Linked DNA regions of Homo sapiens: region 1 is linked to region 2. The links come from fine-mapping of genetic effects on plasma protein levels. A gene starts in region 2. The other region holds a variant in brackets. All regions are shown on one strand. Distances are between the middles of the regions. Region 1 overlaps RSPO1 (R-spondin 1). Region 2 holds the start of RSPO1 (R-spondin 1).

The links. PIP is the posterior inclusion probability: the model's chance that the variant is causal. The UK Biobank Pharma Proteomics Project read protein levels with antibody pairs (Olink). The fine-mapping took linkage between variants from a reference panel, not from the people measured, so its PIPs are less certain.
Region 1: its variant is fine-mapped to the plasma level of the RSPO1 protein (UK Biobank, PIP above 0.99).

What each region holds. Positions count from the first base shown.
Region 1 is chr1:37,606,282-37,617,237 of GRCh38, forward strand. RSPO1 (R-spondin 1) reads right to left here. Exons shown (of 7, transcript NM_001242908.2): 4 at 10,203-10,394; 5 at 7,903-8,052; 6 at 7,423-7,611; 7 at 5,069-6,640. The coding sequence ends at 6,474. Among named protein-coding and RNA genes, the nearest start is that of GNL2, 16 kb to the left of the region's middle. The variant C/T (reference allele first, on the strand shown) is at 7,122.
Region 2 is chr1:37,630,033-37,641,653 of GRCh38, forward strand. RSPO1 (R-spondin 1) reads right to left here and starts at 4,860. Exons shown (of 7, transcript NM_001242908.2): 1 at 4,534-4,860; 2 at 2,255-2,321. RefSeq lists enhancers at 558-727, 629-1,142, 3,151-3,678, 4,207-4,734, 4,735-5,261.

The sequences.
Region 1 (10,956 bases), 24 kb before region 2:
CCAAGACTGGGTGCCAGGGGCCTTGGAACTGCCAAAATGCCTCCCATTTTATGGACAGGCCTGGCTCACCCTGAAGACATTCCAAGTATTTAATCAGCAGTCCATGGTACATATTGGGTTGCAGAGGGAGCCCTCAGAAGCTGGACTTTTAGGAGACAAAACTCAGCCAGAGGAAGGAGCTGGCCTTCTACATGGACCAGGCTGATGCTCAACAGATGGAAAAAGTGCATCCCAATAACAAGGATCAATAACCGAAGGCTGACAGCTGCAGAGACCTGGCCTGAGAGGCCCCTAAGGACTCAGTTCTGCCTCTTTCCCACACCAGACTGAGTCCAGCCAGGAATCCATCTCACCCACCTCCCTGCACCAAGCTCCGGGAGAGCGAACAAGCGAGGGAGGAACCATTTTTCACATACTTTCTCTTTCAAAATGTAGCCCTGTTTCGCAATTTCCTACTTAAGTTCTGGAAGGCTCTAGGGCAGAACCCAAGACACCTTCTCTAGCCACTGGCCTGGGTCTCTCGTCACCAAGAACCTGGTAGGCTAGCGGTGACGGAGAAAGGAAGGGGCCCAGATTTACGAACTCTCCCACTGTCCCCATCCATGCCAGCTCACCCAAGGGTCTATTTAGTGCAGGTCACTCTCTCTCTGTCTTTTTGTAGAGACAGGGTCTCAGTATGTTGCCCAGACTGGTCTTGAACTCCTGGCCTCAAGCTGTCCTCCTGCCTCAGCCTCCCAAAGTGCTGGGATTAGAGGCATGAGCCGCCACGCCCGGCCTCACATTCTTGATGCTAAAGGAGCTTCAACCAAGCCTCCAGCCAAAACCTGTTTATTGTTCCCCGTGTGTTGGCTTTCTCTTGGGAGAGCCAGAAGGTGCGCCACACCAAAGCAGGTGCACCCAACCCTGGTATGCTCACGTCTCAGCAACCCCTGAGGACCTAATCTTCAGATCTTCTCTACTCCCCTATAACTAGGCTTTTGTTCTGGCTCACTTTTACTGGCAGTACTAGACAGTATTCCAGACCTTTTGCAATGAATCCATTTAGTCCTTAAAAATGAAACCTGTTCCCTCTGATTGTTTTCCTCCCACCTTATCACTGTTCACTTGGGTTTCCACCTGTTGCCCATTTAAATCTGGTCTGGACCACAGCTGGAGAAGTGAGACGCGAAAAGCCAGCACCTGGGTTGCTGGCCCTGCATCAGGGACTTGTAATAGAGCCCAAGAAGCTGACCCTTTTCCTAAATTCCCTCTCAGTCCTCCTACACCAAACCAAACAAACCAGAAAGAAAAAAATCCCCACTTAAGTAAACAAATCCGGAAAACACAACCCCATCACCCAAAATATTGAAATGGAAAACAAATCTACACTCTGGAGATTTGATCTGAAACATACCAGAGCTGGAACTGTGTACGGTGGCCAGAAATGTGTTAGTCTGGGCAAATCTGTGGCCCCGTAGAGGAAAAAGCTAACATTTTCCAAATAACAATGTGGGCACGTAACAACTACATACAATCATGTGCTGTTGTTGCCTAAACCTGGGAATAGGGTTAGGCAGCTCCATATCTTGACATAGATTCCCTCTCTCCAGCACTCAGTCATCCTAAAAAGCACAAGGTGTGATGTCTGGACCAACTCTGGGCTGCTCTCAGCCCTTATGGTCTCTGCCTCAGGTGGGCTGCTTCTAGGGTTGTGAGCAGGTTTTGAAACACACACCCCTCTCCAGCTAAAGACAGGACAGAGTGAGACAGGAGTAGGTCCAGGTGGGGCTAATTGTTTTTTAGGAATGTACTGGGATCGCATCTGAAAGCACCCAGTGTATCAGTATCAGATGATCTTGCCAGTAATTCTGCAGATGTAGAAGCTCAAGTGTGGGGTGTACATCAGTGGATTCAGGACTTCCTGAAACCCATACTGTGTTCCTTATCTTAGCTGCCTAGGGCCTCAAGAGCAGCTTTAGGTGGCTCAAAGATGCGATGCAGAGAAGCGGGATGGCTCAGAGCATCACAGAGTTGATGGCAGGAGATACAGGAGGATCCAGCTCATTCTTTGATGTTGCTAAGATTCTGGATTTCTGCTTTGATGTTGGTGTAGAGGAAAGCTTATGACAGTGCTTCTCAAATTGTTAAATATCTGCACAAATTTACTAAGGGATCTTCTTACAAGGCAGAATCAGATTCTTTAGGTCTGGGTAAGGCCAGAGATTCTGTATTTTTAGCAGCTTCCAGATGAGGCCAAGATCGCTGGTCCATGGCCACACTTTGAGGAGCAAGAGCCTAAGGGTCAGGGACAAATCAGAGACAAAGACAGCCAAGACATACTGGGACTGAGGATTGATGCCCCAAAGTGAGAAACAGAAGGACAAAGAGAATCAATGGTGCACAAAAATAGAGTCAGAGGCTGAAGTGGGAACAGAGAAGGTCAGGGTGACAAAAAGAGGGACCGAGAAGACAGAGTTAGAGACGCAGAGAGGGGCAAAGGCAGAGGGAACACAGAGATGGAAGATGGATGGCACAGAGAGACTTGCAAAAACACAGCCAGGGTCAAGGAGAGGAGACAAGGTAAAGAGTGAGTGAAGAGGGGCTGGAGCTGGCTGTGGGCGGTCTGTGACTGGCAGTGAAGATCACAGGTGTAGACGGGACAAGACCTGCAGGTGCACAGACATGAAATCCCCCACCTTCCTCACCTCCCAGGCTTCCCGCACCTGCATCACTCTCTCCTTGCTCTTGCAGAGCCATCCCTCCCCATGGAACCTTCCACTACTGATTTCCCCTTCTCTTGCCTGTGTACTCAACTGCTTTCTCTTAAGTGCACCCCTCCCAGAAGGTTTTAAATACCATCAAGTCTTTCCCATCTAAAGAAAAAAGGTCTCTCTTGACTCATATTTCTTTCTAGCTCCTGTCCTATTTCTCTTCCTCTTTTTCACAGCTAAGGAATTGTCTGTTTCCATCACCCTCCCCAAACACTGCTGCTAAGCTTCTGTTGGCACACGTTGCTGAGTCCAATGGTCACTTTCCAGTCCTCTTTTGCTTGATCTCTCCCTCCTTCTTGCTAGCTTCTGGGACCTGATATTCCCCTGGGTTTCCTCTTGCCTGCTCCTTCTTTAACTCACCGTTTGTGATCTGATCTTTATATTTAGAGGGACTTTATATTAGAGCTGGGCCCAGACTCCTCTCTTCAACCAGTGCTGTCTTTTCAGTTGAGCTCTTCCAAACCCACAGCCTCAATTGCCTTCTGTACACCAGTTTACATTCCATCCCAAACTCCGCCTGTACAACTAAACTTGTGTTTATGTCTAAGCAATGTCTGCTCACCATCTTTACCAGGATGTCTCAGAGGTACTACAAACTCAACGTGGTCGAAAGCAGATTTATGTTCTTCCTTCTTCTCCCAAACTGGTCTTCCTCGCAGGTTTCCCACCTCAGAACACAGCACTGTCATCTGTCTGGGTGTTTGAGTCAGAAAAAGAGATTTCATCCTTGATAACTCCTCCCCGTCTCTCCCCTCTTCCACATCCAATGCATCACCAAATTCTGTCAACTTTATGCCCCAAATACCTTTTGATTTTGCTCACTTCTCTCCATTTCCACTGCCACCACCCTAGTTCAAATCTCCAACATCTCTCACCTAGATGACAGCAACAGCCTCCTAAGCAACCCCTCCCTAATCTGTCTTTCAAGCTACAGACAAAATGATCTTTGCAAAATGCAAATCTGCTTGTTTTGGCCTACTGCTTAAAACCCTTCAGTAGCCTCCTTTGGCTCTGAGAATAAAGGGCCAACTCCAGGCAATCTTTCTAGAATCATCTGAACTCATTTGCCCTCGAGACCTTCCAGCTATACTGGCTTTCTTTCAGTTCCTTGGCCAAACTATTTTCTGTCACAGGACAATTGCATATGCATGTCTGTAGAACTGTGCTGTCCAACATGGTAGCCGCTCACCACATGTGGTTATTGAGCACTTGAAATATGGCTAGTGCAACTGAAGAACTGAATTGCTAATGTTATTTAATTTTAATTGGCTAAATTTAAAATTTAAAAACATACATCATTCAGTTACAGAAAAACTGGTAAGTATTCTCAAAACAACTTGGGTATGTGTATCTTCTTTTTCAACTTTAGTTTTTATGCCATGTAATTACAGATCAGGTATTTCTGCTGAAAATTTAGCATCCAAATTAAGATATGCTGTGAGTGTAAAAATACACATGGAACATTGAACACTTAGTTTTAAAAAAGTAAAAGATCTCACTAATAATTTTTTACCTTGATTGCATGTTAAAAAGATAATACTTTGGGGCCAGATGCAGTGGCTCATGCCTATAATCCCAGCACTTTGGGAAGCCGAGGCAAGAGGATCGCTTCAGCCTAGGGGTTCAAGACCAGACTGGGCAGCATAGTGAGACCTCATCTCTATGAGGAAAAAAAAAAGATAATACTTTGCATATATATGGTTAAATAACAGATGTAATTAAAATTAATTTCACCTCATTCCTTTTTATACTGTGGCTACTAGAAAAACATTTTCTTTTTTTATTACTTAATTTTGTTTTGCACACCAGGCTGGTCTCAAACTCCTGGGCTCAAGTGATCCTCCTGTCTTTGCCTCCCAAAGTGTTGGGATTACAGGCGTGAGCCACCCTGCCTGGCATTTTTTTTTTTTTTTTTTTTTTTGAGACAGTCTCACTCTTTTGCCCAGGCTGGAGTGCAGTGGTGTGATCTCGGCTCACTGCAGCCTCCACCTCCCGGGTTCAAGTGATTCTCCTGCCTCAGCCTCCGAGTAGCTGGGATTACAGGTGCACACCACCACACCCGGCTAATTTTTGTATTTTTAGTAGAGACGGGGTTTCACCACGTTGGTCAGGCTGGTCTTGAACTCCTGACCTCGTGATCTGCCCACCTCAGCCTCCCAAAGTGCTAGGGTTACAGGCATGAGCCACCGCGCCCGGCCCAAAAATGTTAAATTAAATATGTGGCTCACATATTTCTACTGGACAGCAGCAGTCTGTCTTAAATCCTTCTACCCATCCTTCAGAGTTAGGCTCAAATATCACATCCTCTGAGACACCTCCCTGAGAGAAAGTATTTTATTTTTATTCTGCTTTATTCACTTTCATAGCTAAGCATAGATGCCAGTGGTCACCTGCCCTTGGCACCATCCTTTTGTAGTTATATATGTGTTTGTACAATTCCTTGGTGCATGCCTATTTTCTTCCCCACCAACCTCTAAGCTCCACAAGAGCAAGGCCCGTGTTTGGCTCCTCCCTGGAAACCTAGCACCTAGTCCAGAGCCTGGCACACACTTCAGAATGCCACAAGGAGTTATTCCATCCACTGCCCTGCCTTTGGGCAGGATTGTCCCCAACCATCACTGGAAGCCTACGCACTCCCTTCCCCTGGCAGTGCCACTAGCCCTTCAGTATATAGATTCTGCCTCTCCCAGATGGAAAGTCCTCCTTTATAGCTGACCAGAATCCCTCCTGCTGCAAGATGGCCGGGGCCCTTTCTCCCGTCCTTTAAGGGGAATTACAGCAGCACTTCTCAAATTTGGGTAACATGCCAATCATCAGGAATCTTAAAATTTAGACTCTGGCTCACCAGGTCTGGAATGAGACCTGAGATTCTCATTCCTAACAAGCTGCCCTGTGACAACACTGCTGCCGGGCCATGCTCTGAGTAACAAGGATATAGACAGCCTGTTTACCACCGTCAGAGCAGCCCCTAAGTTTTCTTCCTTGTCTGCATGACCCTCTACTGAGCAGGCTATTTGGGGTCTCTTGAAATTCCCTGTCCCTTCTTGCTCCTACGCATACCTCGCCAAACCCTCACACCCTGCAAAGGAATGTGGTGCCTGTGTCTACTGCTGTCGTTGATTTTTTTGTTTTAATTTGAAATAAACCTTTAAGCAGTTTTCAAAGTCAGGTTAACCCTGATATGTATCCTGGAAGGGTAACAATACTCTCCAACGATAAAGTCACACAGCTGGGAGTGCTGAACAGGATGGGAAGAAGGTTTCTTCCCAGGTCACCAGCAGTCCTCAAGCTTGGCTCCCATCTGCCACAGTGGCTGGTCCGATCCCAGCAGCTTCTCCAGAAGGCTCCCCTCTGCAGTTTGGTCTCAGATGCTGGGAAGTGTTGTCTCTGACATGTCCACTGGGAGCTCTGGAAACCAAGTGTGTACTGCTGGGCCCGAGGGATGGAAGTGTCTTCTGGTGGCCTCAGGTGTGTGTGTGTGTGTGTGTGTATGTGTGTGTGTGGTGTCTGTGTCTGCGTGTGTACATGAACACACATGTGCAAGTATGTATGGTTGTATATGTGGACAGGGGTTTGAGCGTGTGTGTCTTGTGTCTATGTATGCATGGATGGATTGGAGTGTGTGTGTATGCTTTGCCCCCGACGTTCCAGTTCAGGAAAGCTTGAATCACGCAGAGTAGCACTGAACTCTTTCTGCATGGGCCTGGAGGCTGGACAGTGTCCCTAGGCAGGCCCTGCAGATGTGAGTGGCCCCACTGTCCCTTGCTGCTGCTGCTGTTGCTGCCCCTTGCGTCTTCGAGAGCCAGCACCCGCCTCCTTGCTCTCCTTCCTGGCCAGGTTCCTGTTGGCATTCTCCCGCCGGCCCTGGCCTCCCTTCCTCCTCTTCTGCCCTGAAACAACCAAACAGCAGGAAGAATCAACAAAGGATGTGCAGGGAGGCCCTGGGCATGGCCACAGGCCCTAGGAGGGGAGTGTGAGGAAGCCGGAAGGGGAGGCAGGGAGGAGGCTGGAGATGCTGCCTCTAGGTAGTTGGGTCATCGTGACCTCCTCTGACAGCAGCCACTTCAGAGGACCCCGAGGCTTGAGTACTGGGAGGCAGCCCAAGAGCCCTTTCACTCCCCAACCCTCAAGGCACACAAGACATCATCCTCTTCCTCATGGATTCCTCAGACCTTGGATCCCAATGGACCAAGAGCACTTCCCAGGTATTCAGTGCAACTCTCAGAACAGGCAGGACTGCCCCCATCCCCTATCCGCCACCAGCCACCTCTGGGGCCAGGCAAGAGCAGCAGCCAACCCCTTGCCAACTGCAGGCTGTGTGACTTTGGTGGAATCACTACACCCCTCTGGGTCTTAGTGCCCCTTTTCACC[C/T]ACCCATCCTGCCTCCGAGGGGCCTTCTAGTATGAACATCCACTAGCTCAGAAGAAATGGGGGAACCGGAAGGATGTTGACCACAGAAGCTTCCAGCTTCCACTATGCAGAGTTCTGAGGCCCTGTTCTCTGCCAGGACATGGCATCTGGATTGGACAGCATGAGGTCTTGAGTTGCGGGTGCCCCATCTGGCCTTGCCCTGAAGCTTCTTCCTGAGCCGTGGGCAGGAAGCAGAGGTGGCAGGACCTGTCATGGCTGGTGCCTGAGCCCTGACCCCAGGGAGGCAGAGGCTGCAGCTCACCCTCAGGACACGGCACTCTCCTCACTGTGCACCTCCGGGTCTCCTTGGTGTCAGAGCAGGCAGCATGGTCCCCCACAGGGGCATGTAGCACCCTGCGTGTCCGCTCCTCGGAGCCCCTCCGGAAACCACAGAGCTGCTGCTTCTTGGAGCAGGGCCCCCACGGAGACCACTCGCTCATTTCACATTGCGCTGGCAGGAAGAGAAGGGAAGGGAGAGAAGGACAAGGAGGAGGGGATCATGTCTCCTCCTCTGGCCCAGAATAGCCCAGGGGAGCATCTCCCACTTTCCTTCTGCCTGGACCTGAGGCTGCAGGTATCTTTAGTCCAGAGGGCAGAAAAGTCCTTGGAGACTCAGAAAGGAGTGGTAGGGTAAGCTCTCCCTGCACAGTGCCCCAGCCCACCCGCTCTCTTGCCAGACCCTTACCCGGCCCCTCCTTCTGGGGTCCTGGACCCTCTGCCCACAGTGCCTGCCATGGCTTACCAGGACTACTGCACTCCATGGTGCCATTGGCAGCTGAGGAGCCCTCGGGACAAGCTGGATAGCAGCGGCCCTTGTGCAGGTACAAGCCCTCCTTACACTTGGTGCAGAAGTTATGGCTGAAGCAGGCCTCACAGTGCTCGATCTTGCATTCTGAGGAGAGGACAGATTGGGGGCTTCTGGCCCAGCCTGGTGAGAATGTTTCCCCTCATCCCCAGCCCCAATACCCTCCCTTCTGTCCACACCCACCTACATGGAGGGCAGGACCCTGGCCTAGAGCTGCAGGTACTGCAGAGGAATCTTGGGAGGAAAGGGAAAGGAAGGGCAGTGGCAGGCCAGGGAAGAAGAAGCTGAAGCGGTTGCTCCTGAAGGCTGGCTGGGACTCTTGCCACCATCAGCCAACTCGATCATGAACCCAGTCTCAGTCCCTGCAGCCCAAGGTGAGGCTCAAGAGAGCAGTTTCAGAGGCGGAGGGTGGGGCCGTCTGGGCCTGGTGGGGGTGGGACAGGAGAGTTTCAGCATCTCACAGCATCCAGAGGGCCACCCTAAACAGAGTTGAACTGAGGGACAGAATGGCCCCCCAGAGAGTGGCTGCATGATCTCTTCTTCCCTCATTGCTGGGCATCTGCAATGTCCCAAACTGTGGTTCTCCTCCTGCCTGGCAGAAAGAATCAGCATGGAGGAGGGGTAAGCCATCCCAGGGCAAATGCCTCTGCCTCTGCAAGGCTGAGTTCCAGCAACAACCTTGGTAGGACTCCTGGGTCCCTCCCTGATTCCCTGCTGCCAGTTCTCTCCTCTGGGGGAATGGGGGCAGGGTGGGTCTTCCAGGGCTTGGCTGGAAGCAGGCAGGGTCTTTCACAATCTCTCCTTCCCAGAGTGCAGGCGGGGCTGACTTCCTCCCAGGCTCTGCCACCTGAAGCCCATGCTGCCAGTTTCCTAGGAGCTGGTGTAGCCAGGAGCTCCCGACTTTAAGGACCATGAGGACCAAGAGGGTAGCTCCCAGGGTCCCACCTCTGTCCTCACAAACTCCCACCATCCTCCAGGCTTATCTCAGCCTCACCTCTCTCCTTCCCTCCTTCCTTCCCTCCCTGGTGCTCTGATTCCTGGGTTTGGTTGCCAGTCAAATAAGAACAAAAATAAGAACAATAGCAGCTACCATTCATTGAGTGCCAGACACTAAGGGCTTTACATGCATGTCTCACAACAACCCTAGGGGGTAAAAACAAAGATGAGGCATTGAGGGGTTGAGATGTGCTCAAGGTCACACAATGAAGAAGTAGCAGAGTTGAGCTCAGAACCAACTCTGAGCTGGACTGGTCCAGTCTAGTCTTGGACCAGTCATTTACCCTCCGGGCCTGAATGTTGTCAGCCCTGAAAAGGGCACCATCAATTGTGTCCTGTCTCCCTCCCAGTGTTGTTGTGAGGCTCAACTGATATGAGACCTGCAAATGCATTCTAAATGGCAAGGCACTGAACAAGTGGTGGGGGCACTGGCATTGTCCCCCGAGTGTGTTCACACGTGTCCCCCAGCACATCACAGCTGCATCTACAGAGAAGGGATGGAGATATGGTAGCGTGTGCCTTGGAGCATGTGGAGCTGTAGCTGTTGTGGAAATGAGGAGTCAGAAGACCAGGGAGAGAAGAGAGTGGAAGAGCAGGCTGCCTGGGCTTGGATTCCCCTGCAGCCCATGTGGAGCTAGCAGTGGTTTTTAAGCAGAAGTGTGATGGGATAGGTTGTATGTCTCAGAAATGTGATGGGATAGGGATAGGTTCTGTGTCTCAGAAGTGTGATGAGATAGGTTGTGTGTCTCAGAAGTGTGATGGGGTAGGGTGTGTGTCTCAGAAGCGTCTTTCTGGCTGAAGTGCAGAAGATGGGTTTCAGGGAACCAGATGAAGGCTGGAGGACAGATGAACAGGCTATTGCAATGATCCCGGAGCAAGGTGCTGGGAGCCTGGGGAGGACAGTGGCAGTGTGGACATACAGGAGATGACAGGCAGGCTTTGGTGATTGGATGGATGGGGTGGGAGAGGTTGGCACTCAGGGCTGTGGCTTGGGTGACAGGTTGGGACATGGAGGGTGACCTCTGGGAATACAGGTAGGGGCAGGTGCGAAGGGAGGAGACAGGGTTCTGATATTTACACACCAAGGTGGAAGTGTGCGGCTGGATACTTGAATCGGAGCCTCATCTCCTCTCCTCAGAGCCCCCTCTGCTCCTCTTGCCAGCCACCAATGGTTCAAAGCACTCTCCCCCAGTCCAGAGCTTCTAATGCCCCCTGCCCCCGACAGCCCTGCCCACACTCACTGATGCACTTGTTCATGTCGGGGTTGCGGGCGTCGAAGTATCCAGGTGGGCAGGACGGCAAGCAGACGCCCACCTGGCGGATGTCGTTCCTCTCCAGCAGGATGAACAGCTTGGGTGAGCACTTGAGGCAGCCGTTGACTTCAGAGCAGAGCTCACAGCCTTTGGCACAGGCCTGGCTCCCCTCGGCACTGACTGCAAAGGTGGAGCAGGCATGAGAAGGCGGCTGTGGAGAGAACCTCACCTATCCAGATTCTGACAAGGATGGGAAGTGAATAGATCGATGTTTCCTTCCACAGAAGGAATATGCTTCTCAGAAAGCACCGGCCAGGCTGGCAGCTCTCTGCAAGGCTGCTTTATACACCTTCCCAGTAGCTTTTCTCCAGAGAGCTAGCACAGATGCTGACCCATGTGCTTCCCTAGCTCCAGACACGACACGAGTTCACTCTCTAGGCTGGCTCCACCATCCCCAGAGAAGCAACCCAAGCTGCAGCCTTCCTGGAATTTATCCACTCTCCCCAGAGCACAAAACAGTCAGCCTTAGTTGTAGAAGGAGGGTTTCTTAAATTTCTGAGAAAGTTTTAAGGGCAAGAGGGATAAATAGTGAAATAGAAAAGGACCACCTACCCAGAAACACAAAGACAATTGGAATAATCTATGCCTAGAACAGGGGTCTCAACCAGGGATGATTTTGCTCCCCAGGGGACATTTGACAATGCCTAGAAAGCTTTTTGGTGATCACACCTGGGGAAAGGGG
Region 2 (11,621 bases):
GGAGCTCAAAATGTTTGGACATTACAAGTTACCTACCTAGCACCTTTCTAGAAGAAATCTGCTCCTTTTCCTGTCTTACAGAATTCCCTAACCTGGGACCGGAGCCGGCAACCTGTGTAGCCAGAATATGGCAGACATTCAAACCAAACTTGTGGATCACTGATGATTTCTCAATAACGGGAGCCAGCTGGTCCCACCCCTGCTTCATGTTGTCCAGCTCTAACTGGAAGTCCTTCCTTAAGTCTACCCTACAGACCTCATGCTGCAGTAGTATCCTGTCTCTTGAAGAGGAGCTCTCTCTCTCTCTCTGTCCTTGCATGAGTGACCCCTCAGCCTTTTCTTCCCGGGGCTGAGTCACCCATGTGCCTTTCACCTGTCCTGGAGTTAGAGCAGTGGCCCCCGGCAAGCTGGCAGACCCTGCCTGGCCCTCTGGGCTTGGCGGGAGAAAAGGAAGTAAGGCTTCCCCCGGCCACAGAAACTCTGACACAGCAGGCCCGGCGGGCCTGGCCTTTGTGAGAGGATAAAAGAGGCAGCAATGCCCGCCCTGGCCAGAGACACAGAGAATGGGGATAATCCCCCAGCCCAGCGAGAGCCAGGTCTCTGGACCCGCTGGCCGGCTGGGGTGATGGGGGCAGGGGAGCCGGTCCCTCCCCTGATCAGATGTGTCTGGGAAGTTGGACATCTGAGCCCAACCTGGGAGTGAGAATGAAAACCCTGCTTCCCCGTCACGGGATCACACACATGCTCTGATGCTCTCAAGGTTCTTCCACAGCAGCGGCCTGCCCACGCACACCCCACACTCCCCCACACACACCCACACCACAACAGAGCATGCAGGCCAATAGCACAGAGTCTCTGTAGATGCCAGGGAGCCATCACCTTCCCCTCCAGTGGCTAGATGCCTTCGAACAAGTCATGTAGCCTCACTGAACCTGTTTCACATCTATAAAATGGGGACAAGCATGACTATGTCACAGGCTAGCTGAGAGTCAGAGAGTTCAGGCTCAGGAATGAGAAATCTGAGGTGCTGGAGTGGAGGTGCCCCTCCCACCCCCTGTCCTAATCCTTTCCCCTCTAGGCTCTTCAGTGCCAGTCCACCCCCTCGCCTGTCAGGGAGGCCCCAGCAGAGCCCACCTGCACGGGAGATAAATCATTATCCCCTAAGGGAGTTCAGTACCTCCCTCCTTGGCCTCTCCCGCTGGCTTTGAAGGCCAGACACACTCAAGTGGTTAAGCTGCCTGTGAGAAGTGTTTACATGAGGCTGATGGATCCCACCTGGTGCTGTGGCCTGAGCCAGAGGAGATGCCCCCAGCTACCCCCAAATGCCCGTCAGCTGCCAACCCCTGCACGCCCCTCCAGTACTCCCTGCCTGATTTACCAAAGCCTTTCTATCCTCCCCAGCCCCCACTACACAATTCTCTCACCCACAGATTATAGATGTCCAGTTGAGTTTATCAAACTGGGGTCTTCTGGCCCAAGTCTGTAGTCTCAGAGGCTGGCTGTACAGCATGATAGTCACGGGCATAAACTTCAGAGTCAGACTGCCTGGATTTGAATATTGGTTCTGCTACTTATTAGCTATGTTACCTTGCTTAGCTGGTCTGAGCCTGTTTTCTTATCTGCATGAAGGTTATTGTTGTTTATAACTTAAATGAGTTAATACACAAAACTGCTTAGAATGGTGCTGGCACACAGTGATGACTCAATAATATTTGCTGTATTTGTTATGACCAAAGCTTCACTTTGTGTCTACATTCTAATAATCATTCAAAAGGCAATATGAACATGTTCTGTATCATCTGGATACTAACCTTAATACTGAGTACTGTTATGCAATTTCCATATTTGCATTTATCTTTATGGTTGATTGCCTCGACACCAAAGCGATCACTCAGAGTGATAGGATTTGCCTTTAATTGCAGCATTTCTCAAACTAAGGTCTGAGAATCCCTGGTAGATCTGTTCCATGAGTCCTTACAGTTGACAAACACTGCATTAGACAAACTTGGTGTTAACCCTGGATCTGAAAGACTTTGGACTCACTGCGTGATCAATATCCCTGGGGTTTTTTGGGGCACAAAATGTCCCCTATGCATCTCTGCATTCCTTGTGCCAACCTGTCATGGTGCCTGGCAATTGAGGGTGAGTGCTCGGCAAATGTTAGCTCCCTTCTTTTTCCTCCCTCTCCTCTCCCTCTAAATTCCTTCTCAATCCTCCCAGGTCCTAGTTTTCAGCTGACCCCTGCCACACTCACCCAGTCCTTGCCAGCGGTGATCTTCTGGCCCACTCCCACCTGAATCACCAGGAAACCACAATCTCAGCTGGAAAATCGTAAGGAGGATCCAGATGTAAATTTCACTGAAGCAAGTGACACTGGCCTCCCCCACCTCTGGGATGGGAAGAGTTGCAAGCACTTTTTGAAAATGTACATATAGAATCAACCCTGTAAAGGGGCTAAGAGTTCCTCTATACCAGGGGGTACAAATGACATATATGATTGAAGCTGGATGTGGAGGGGGTAAACTGGAGGGTAAATGCCCCATCTAAAGGGAGCATATGCCGTTCAGCTCTGACTGATTGTTGAAAGATCTTCTGATTTTCTAAAAGAGGAGTGGAAAATCCAGGATCTTACATGAAATCTGATTTGAAATGCTGGACAGGTCTCGGACTAGGAACCCTGCAGCACCAAGCCTCAGAGGGCCACAGGTCCCTGCCTCAGTGGCTCCACATTCCTGCATCTAGTCCCTGACCCCATATGCGCACACACAGGCATGCACTCTTGCAGACATGGACAGCATGGGCTAGGGCTGAGAGAGGAGATATGAGCTGATGACTCCCTTTTAAGCAGGCTGCTTCATTTCTTTTAGAGTCCTCTGTCTGATTTCCTTTGAGCCATGGGCTATATGGCACTGGCAGTTTATGTTTTTGAGGCTCACTCTACACAGATAGAATGGGGACTGCTGGCAGTGCCTCAGGTTATTGGTGGGGGTAAGAAAGGGCATTTCTCTCTGCCACTGTGGGGGTGAGGGATTCACACTTGTTAGATGCCTCCCTCCACCTGCCATGTGCCAGGTCTTCGTTTACTCCTCACAATGGAAGGAGGAAGGTAGAATTATTTCCATTTTACAGGGGAAGAGACCTGGCCCTGAATGGTTAAGTGTCCCAGGGGTTACAGACCCAGTTAGGGACCTGCCCTCAGGTTTGCTACCCAGGACTGGGTGTGGGGAGGGCGGGGCAACCCGCTGGGAGCTGCTGAGTGTGGGGCACAACCCAGCTTGGGGAGTGGACCTGCAAAGTGGGGACGGGGCTGGTGGCAGAGGCAGAGCTGAGAAGGGAGACCAAAGCGAGAGGCCACAAGGGCCTCGGAGGGGAGTATACAGGTCGGGGAGGGGGACACAGCTGGAGGTGGAGCTGAGGGCAGAAACTCAGCCCCGGGAGGGGGCTGGAATCACTTTCACCTTCTTGCCTGCAATACCGTCAGAATAAAGTGGTACTCCATCAGGGGCCCGATACAGACCCAAAAATGTAAACTATCTAGATAATTTCGCATTAGCCCTCCCCGGGCCGGGCTACAGGCTGGAGAGTTTTGGCCGCCCAGCAGGCTGGCAGGCGGGGGCAGAAGAATTGCGGGCGGGGGGCGGGACAAAGTATGTGCCTGTCCGACCTGTCGGGATTAGCCTGTCTGTCGGAGCCAAGCCAGGTGCTGGGGCCGTGCCCCCCCTCCAAAAGCAAGGGCAGCGGAGGATGGCTTCTTCACCCCTCCATCACCCCCGCAAGCGCGCACATTCTTCTTCCCTCCCCCACCATCCCGCAGAGGCCCCAACAGGTGCCGAGGGAGACGCGGACCTGAGGTTCCCCTGGCTGGCCCTCAAGAGCCAAGAGAGCTGTCCACGTCTGAGAGGCCAGTTTCACAAGAAAACTCCTGCCCCCAAGCACACTCACTCCAAGTCTGTCCCGGCCCTCCAGGGAGTCCCGGGCGAACATAGCCCCCACCTCTCCCCAACTAAGCGATACCATCGGTTCCTGAGCGCCAGACCCCGAGGGCCAGGGAGCCGCGCCACTTCGCTGCGCACCGGGGGCCGCAGCGCATGCCGCCTGCCACGTCGAACCCAGGCCCAGGCTGCGGACTGGGGTGGGGGTCACCAGAGACCGTGGGACTTGGGGGAATCCGAGCCAATGAGCCCCAGGATCAAGAACTTCTGGATTGGAGGCGGGGTATAAACAGGGCTGGTGGACTTGGGGAATTCAGGACTGCGAGTGAGGATGATCACCCGGGGCTGCGGGATGGAGGGGAGTTCGAGGGGAAGAGGCTGCCTGCTGGATTGAGGGCCGACGGGGGCGGCAGACTTGCAGGAAGGGTGCAGGAGGTGCCCTGTCCTGATCGCCGACCGGAGAGCGATCAGACTCCCCTTCCTTTCTGTCTCCCCCCACGCACCCAGCTAGAACCAGCCCCGACGGGAGGGCCCGCCGCGCCCCAGCTCCCGGGGAAGGGGGCGCTGGGGAGAAGGATGGGGCAGCTACGAGGGGACTCACCTTCGTGCTGCCAGTCGCGACGGGGGCAGGCCCGGGAGGGGCGAGGGCGCGGCCCGCTCACCCGCCCGCTGCGGGACTGTCCTGGGCGCCCGGCTCGCCTGCGCTCCGCCCGCCCGTTCCCAAGTTGCTCAATCTGCGGACGGCTCACGCCCTCGGGGCCAGCGCCCCACCCGGCGCATCGGTCCTCCGGGGCGGCTCGGAGCTGCCCTCGTTCTCCGCAGCACCCGAGCGGATGCCCTACTCTGGCCGGTCGCTCCGGGCTCTCTGCCCTGCGCTGGTGCTCTCCGTCGCGCCTCCGCTCGGCCGGAGCTCCCAGCCCGGAGAGGGGCCAGTCCTCTGCGAGCACCAGGGAGGGAATCCCCCCCTTCGCAGTCCCCCCCGCGAGCCGGCCCCCCTTCCAGGGATCCGCAAGAAAAAATGGACTGGAGCGCCGGCCCGGGAGTCCACACGTCCTTGCCCGAAGCTGGCGCTCTGCGCTCCGAGCGCGGGGCTGGCGGAGGGACAAGTCCCCAGGACCCTGGGGCAGACCTTCTGCTTTTGTCCCCTGCCCCTCCCCGCGCCCCGGGGATTCCACGCAGCCAGAGAACCCGCAACAACTCCGCTCATCTTGGCGTCAGAACGCGGCCGGAGACCCTCATGAAAACCCCAGTTTCCCCATCAGGAACCTGGAAAGTGACAAGGAACAGGCTCCACAGAGCCTGGTGGTCTTGACCACACCCTCTCCCCCTTCAGGGTCAAATCTTCTGTGCATCTTCCCAGTTCAGAAGAAATACCAAGGCTATCAGATCCTGGGCACCGAGGTGAGGACACCTCCAGAGGCAGCTGGTAGGTGAGAGTGAGGGAGATCATACAATAACACTTAGATTCATGTCTGGCTCTATCACTTACCAGCTGTGTGGTCATGCCTAGGTTACTGAACCTCTCTGAATCGCAAGGCTTCATCTGTTCTGAGGGTTCAATGAAATGAAGGCTACAAACTTCTGGTTAATGGTGGGAACCCCATACATGTTTGTGGAATGAGTCTTGAACGGCTACAGACACCTGCAGTGACCCAGATGATGTTGAAGTCAAGCCCGAAGAAGGGAGGGAAGGAGACTCACTTCTTAGAGTGACAAACAGCTGTTCTCCAGCTTCACTTCAGATTGGGAAAGGAAAATGGGCTAAAACTGTAGTTAGTGGGAGTTAAGCTAGAGCAGAAAAGATGTACTGATTGTGTGTGTGTATAGGGGGGGTGAGTAATCAAGACAGGCTGTGGAATCTCCCTCTTAGGAGAGAAGGGGGGAGCCCTGACTATTGAGTTAAGGGCACAGGGTCGTTTACAATGACAGGAGGATGGATGTAATGACCCCTAGAGTGTCCCAATGGCCAGGGAACAGGGATGGTGGATAGCCAGAGAAAGTGGAGCAGTTGGGTCCGAAATGCCCAGTGTCTGGGTTCATTCAGCCAGAGCATTGCCAAGTTTGCAGGAGGCAAACAGTCATTTCCGAGTTGGTCCAGGGGCCCCCTCCAACCTCCAACCCCCACTCAAGTCCCTCCTCTCTCACCTCTGCCCTGAGCCTTCCCTGCGTCTAACCGGCCCTTGGCTATGCTCTGTGTCTAATCAAACAGCCCCAAATGCCGAAAACTCAATGTTTATTTTATTTTATTTTTTTACACACTTGCATAACTCTCTGACAAGCCACGCCAGGCATTGGGCTTTTTGTTTGGTTTTATTTTGTTGCATTTAGGAAAAAAAAGAGGGAGAGAGAGAGAAAAGAGAAGAAATAACACAAACCACACAGCCCTAGAAGCTGTCCTAGGCCAGGCAGTGGGCTCGGGTTTCCTGCCTGAGGAAAAGTCTGTGGAAGTTGGGGGGCCTCGTTACTAGGCTCAGGAATGAGTGAGAAAGGGAAGAAAGCCACCTGGGTGACAGAAGATAACGAATTAGAACCATGTGACAATAATGGGTGAATAAGAAAGAATGTTTCTTGTGCACCTAATGTATGCCAAGCACTGTGTTTTGCACATATATTCTGTTACCTAATTTCGCAACTATTGTAGTTCCTTTCTTTTTTCCTTTTTTCCCATAAATGTAAATTCTGATCCTCAGAGACGCCAAGTCAATTGCTCAGAGACACACAGCCTGCAAGTGGCCAGCCCAGTTCAGGTTATGCCAAATGAGTTGTTTCCCTGGGAAAGCTGTGTTGCTCTAAATTTGCATATGCTGTTCATTCTGCTTAGAAATGTCTTTTTCTCGGCCAGGCGCAGTGGCTCACGCCTGTAATCCCAGCACTTTGGGAGGCTGAGGCAGTCGGATCACGAGGTCAGGAGATCGAGACCATCCTGGCTAACACGGTGAAACCCCGTCTCTACTAAAATTGCAAAAAATTAGCTGGGTGTGGTGGCGGGTGCCTGTAGTCCCAGCTATCGGGGAGGCTGAGGCAGGAGAATGGCATGAACCCGGGAGGCAGAGCTTGCAGCGAGCCGAGATCACGCCACTGCACTCTAGCCTGGGCAACAGAGCAAGACTCCGTCTCAAAAAAAGAAATGTCTTTTTCTCTAATCCTTTTTGTGTCATCCTTCAAAAGGCCTGTATGAAGTTTAGCCTGACCACCTCGAAAGTCAGCCTCCAAACCTTGTGTAGACCTGTACACCACCCATCATTGGCCAATGATGGTCTCTTCCACTGCAGTGAGTTCCTAAGGAACTGGGAGGATGTTCACAGACAAAAGCAGAACTCTGTCCGCACGGAAGAAGGGCTTTTGGATTGGAAACTACTGGCATCTGTGATCATTACTGTTACTCTAGAAAAAGCTGACTTTGTTACTGTCAATTTATAGGCTCCCCTGAAAACTCTAGTCTTCATAACCCTGCTGTTCTCTGAAATCTTTCATTCATTCATTCATTCTTTCTATTTTTTTATTTTTTTATTTTTTAGAAGAAGTCTTGCTCGGTTGCCCAGGCTGGAGTACAGTGATGCGATCTCGGCTCACTGCAACCTCAGCCTCCCAGGTTCAAGCGATTCTCCTGCCTCAGCCTCCCAAGTAGCTGAGATTACAGGCACGCCACCACGCCCAGCTAATTTTTTTTGTATTTTTAGTAGAGACTGGGTTTCACCATGTTGGTCAGGCTAGTCTCGAACTCCTGACCTCAAATGATCTGCCTGCCTCAGCCTCCCAGAATGTTAGGATTACAGGCGTAAGCCACTGCCCTGGCTAGATCTTGTCATCCTTTCTTTCATTGAGGCAATATAGCATAACAGCTAAGTGCATGGACACTAGTATCGGCCGAGTTTGAAGCCCATCTCTACCACTGACTAGCTTAATGTCCTTGGGCAAGTCACTTCACCTCCCTAAGCCTCAGTTTCCTCATCTGTTAAATACATATAGTAACAGTATTAACCCACCACAGTTCTTACAGGGATGACATAAGATAATGCATTTAAAGAGCTTGGCACAATGTTAGGAATTATAGTAAGTACTTAGTACATGCTGGCTCTTCTTATTAGCTATAATTTGGTCAGTGCCTTTATTAGATATCAACCAAGCACTATTGTATCCCAGGCACAGGGCTGGAAATGGAGGATAGAGAAATGAGTATCACACTGTCTTCCTAAGGAACTCCTGGTTTAGTGAGGAAGGCCGACTCAAGAGCCTGGTGAAAGGGTAAATGAGGTAGAGTGGTGGGACAAAATAAGGGGTGACTGTGACTCCTTGAGGGAATCTGAGAAGGCTTCTCCAGGGAAGAAATGCTTGAAAGATTTATTGGCATTTTCTAGGCACATGTGATCAAAAGGCATTCCAGGCAGAGGGAATGGCAGGTGCAAAGGCCCGGAGGCCTGCTGCATCGTGGTGCCCTTAGTGCTATAAGTAGTTCTGCTTCGTGGGGATTTCGGATGAGAGAGGTGAGGCGGGGAAGAGGGCAGCAGATGGGGTGCTTCCAAAAGGACCTTATGGTACCAGGCCAAAGAGCAGGAACTTTACCTTGAGGGCAAGGGCAGCCCCTGAGTGTTGATGAGGCAGAAAGGCAGGACCAGAGTTGTGCTTTAGGAGTGTCTTGCAGCTCTGGTGAAGGCTGAATTTGAAGAGGCGAGACTGAAGGGAGTGAGGAGCCCCAGTGAGCAATAATAAAGTAGATCATTCCCAAGAACACTGCCCAGCTCTTCCTTGTTCCTTTCTCTCCACTTTCCTCCCAGGGGGTCTGCTGTGTCCTCTGGAAGCCCCATACCAGCAGAAACACACTTCTCAGATTCTCTACCTTGTTGTGAGTGAGTTCAGGCTCCTTTAACACACACCAGGGACGCCATCCCCTTTGCCCAACAAAGTCTGGCAATACCACTCATTCTCCTGCACGAGGGTGTGGCATCTGCCTCATTCCACACCGCCCCCCTGCCCTCCCTTTTGTAACTGTTCCTCCTGTTCTACCTCCCTGCTCTCTTCACCTGAGTTATTTCCCCCATGCCCTGCTGTGCTTTCTTTGCTCACACAGGACCCTGGCATCTGTCTCGAGGTCCTCTTCTCTGTGGCAGACTCAAGCATCACGTTGGGGACCTCGTTCTCTATGTCAGTGCTACGCCCAACACCTCTGGGACCTCCTGGACCAGGTCGATACTCTTGTCCACTCCACTTTGGCCTCCCATTCACATGGCCACCCCCTCTTGACCTCACCCAAATTACTCCATCCCTGAAATCATAGGCTTCAAGATCCTCAGACCCCCCCACTCTAACCTTCTGCTCCCAATCTCTCATGCCCTTCCTTCTAATTCAGATTCTTGGCGTTTCACCTGCCCGATAACGATTTCTGCACTGGCCTTGCCTCAACATCTCAACTGCCCCACAAACCCCCTGCCAGTTCCTGCTGAGCTCCTCTGGACAGTCCCCCAGCTACCTGAGACAGTGCCACTGCAAATCCACAGCCAGCCTCCACTGGGGCTTCAGCAAGCCCACGGATGACCGTGCAGACTTCCCCTTCCAGCCTCTCCCAGCCTCTCACTCCGTCCCAGCCCCCATCATCAAGCAGCTAAGATGGCCAAGAGTGGCCCCTTCAACTCCCTGCTCCTAAAACTAAACTCTTGGGCCCTGCACAGAACCTCTTTCTCCCCAGTTTTTCTCCTTGGAAACAGCGATGAAACTGATAAAGCAAGAAACTGGGAGTTGTTTTGCATTCTTCTCTCTCACCTCCCACATCCACTCTACTGGCAAATTCTGTTGGATCTGCCCCCAGAAACTTTCCTGCTTTAAGCCAATTTTGCCGCTTACCTGGACAATTGTTAGTGTCCCTTCCAGGTTGCCCCACTCCCACTCTGTCCCCCACCAACACAGGCTTCACACAGTAGCCAGAGTAAATTAACAATTATAAAGCAGGTCCCATCATTTACTCCCCTGCTTAAACCTTCCAGTGATTTTCCATCACACTTAGAACCAAATTCAAACACCATCCCTTATAAGGCTACATCCCTCCAGCTTCATACATCGCCTCTCTCTTGGCTTCAGCCCTACCAGGCTTCTTTCAGTTCTTTGGTAATTCCAGACTCTTTCTCATCTCAGGGCCTTTGCACAGGTTCTCTGCCATCTTGCCCTTCCCATAGCTCTTCATATGGGGCATTTCTTTTCTTCCTTTTTTTTTTTTGGATTAAAAATTTTTTTTAATAGAGGCGGGGGTCTCACTATATTGCCCAGGCTGATCTCGAACTCCTGGGCTCAAGCAATCCTCTCATCTTGGCCTCCCAAAGTGCTGGGATTATAGGTGTGAGCCACTGTGCCTAGCCTCTTTTCTTCCTTCGAATCTCCACTTAAAAATTATTCTGTTAGAAGGGCCTTCCCTGACCTCTCCATCTGAGTAGCTCCCCCATTATTTCATATCACAGCTTCCTTTCTGTTGTAGTGTATGTTGTATTTGTTTGTTGGTTTTATTTTGGTTTTAGAGACAGGGTCTCACTCTGTTACTGAGGCTGGAGTGCAGCGGCACAATCATAGCTCATTCTTCCACCTCAGCCTCCCAAGTAGCTGAGACTACAGGTACGTGTCACAATGCCCAAAATGTAAAAAAAAAAATTTTACATTTTTTTTTTTTTGTAAAGATGGTGTCTTACTGTGTTGCTCAGGCTGGTCTTGAACTCCTGGCCTCAAGACCAATCCCACCTTGGCACTGGGATTACAGGCATGAGCCACCATGCCTGGCCCTATTTTGCGTTTTGTAGCCATTTATTTGCATGCTTCTGTACTAGACTCCAGTTCCCAATCCTTCCATGTGAAAGAGCCCCCTTCCTTGCCACAGTTCTCACTCTCCCTGCATGATCCATGGCTAAGGTCACCAAAAACCTCCTTATCACCGCATTCTGTGGTTCCTTTGTCTTCCTCCTTCTCTATCCCTCTGCAATTCTTGACACCTCCACCTTCTTGGAATGCTTCTCTCCACTGTCCTGGTTCCTGTTTCCTTGTATATCTGTCCACCTCCCCTCCTAGCCCTTAACTGTGGACAAACCCAGGGTGATTCCCCGCCATCTGCCTTTCTTGTCAACCATGAACTAATATAGCTAAAAAGCACAATGCCCAATAGTAAGAAAAGTAAGTGTCAAGTTGGCTAGGCCATGGGAAAAAAACATTATGCTTTTTGTTTCTCTGCAAGTATTTTTTCAATGGGATTAATACTGAAATCAGTAGACTTTGAGTAAAGCAGATTACCTTGCATAATGTGGGTGGGCCTTAACCAATCAGATGAAGGCCATAAGAGGAAAAGACTGAACTCCCCTGAGCAAGAAGAAATTCTGCCTTTGGACTTGAACTGCAACACCAGCTCTTCCCTGGGTCTCCAACCTGCCAACCTATCCCTGCAGATTTTGGACTTGCCAGCCTTTACACTCATGCGAGCCAATTCCTTAAAATTTAATCTCTCTTTCTCATTGGCTCTGTTTCTCTGGAGAACCCTGACTAATAGAGGAGGTGCTAAATAAATCTTAACTTAAAAAATCCCAAACTCTTTCCTTAGTGAAATCTTTCTCACAGATCCATATATGTTGGGTCTGAGAGTCAGGACACCCAAGTTCTAGTTCCAGGTCTGCCACTTGCTGGCTTGATGATCTTATCCAACTCCCCCGACATCTGTAAACC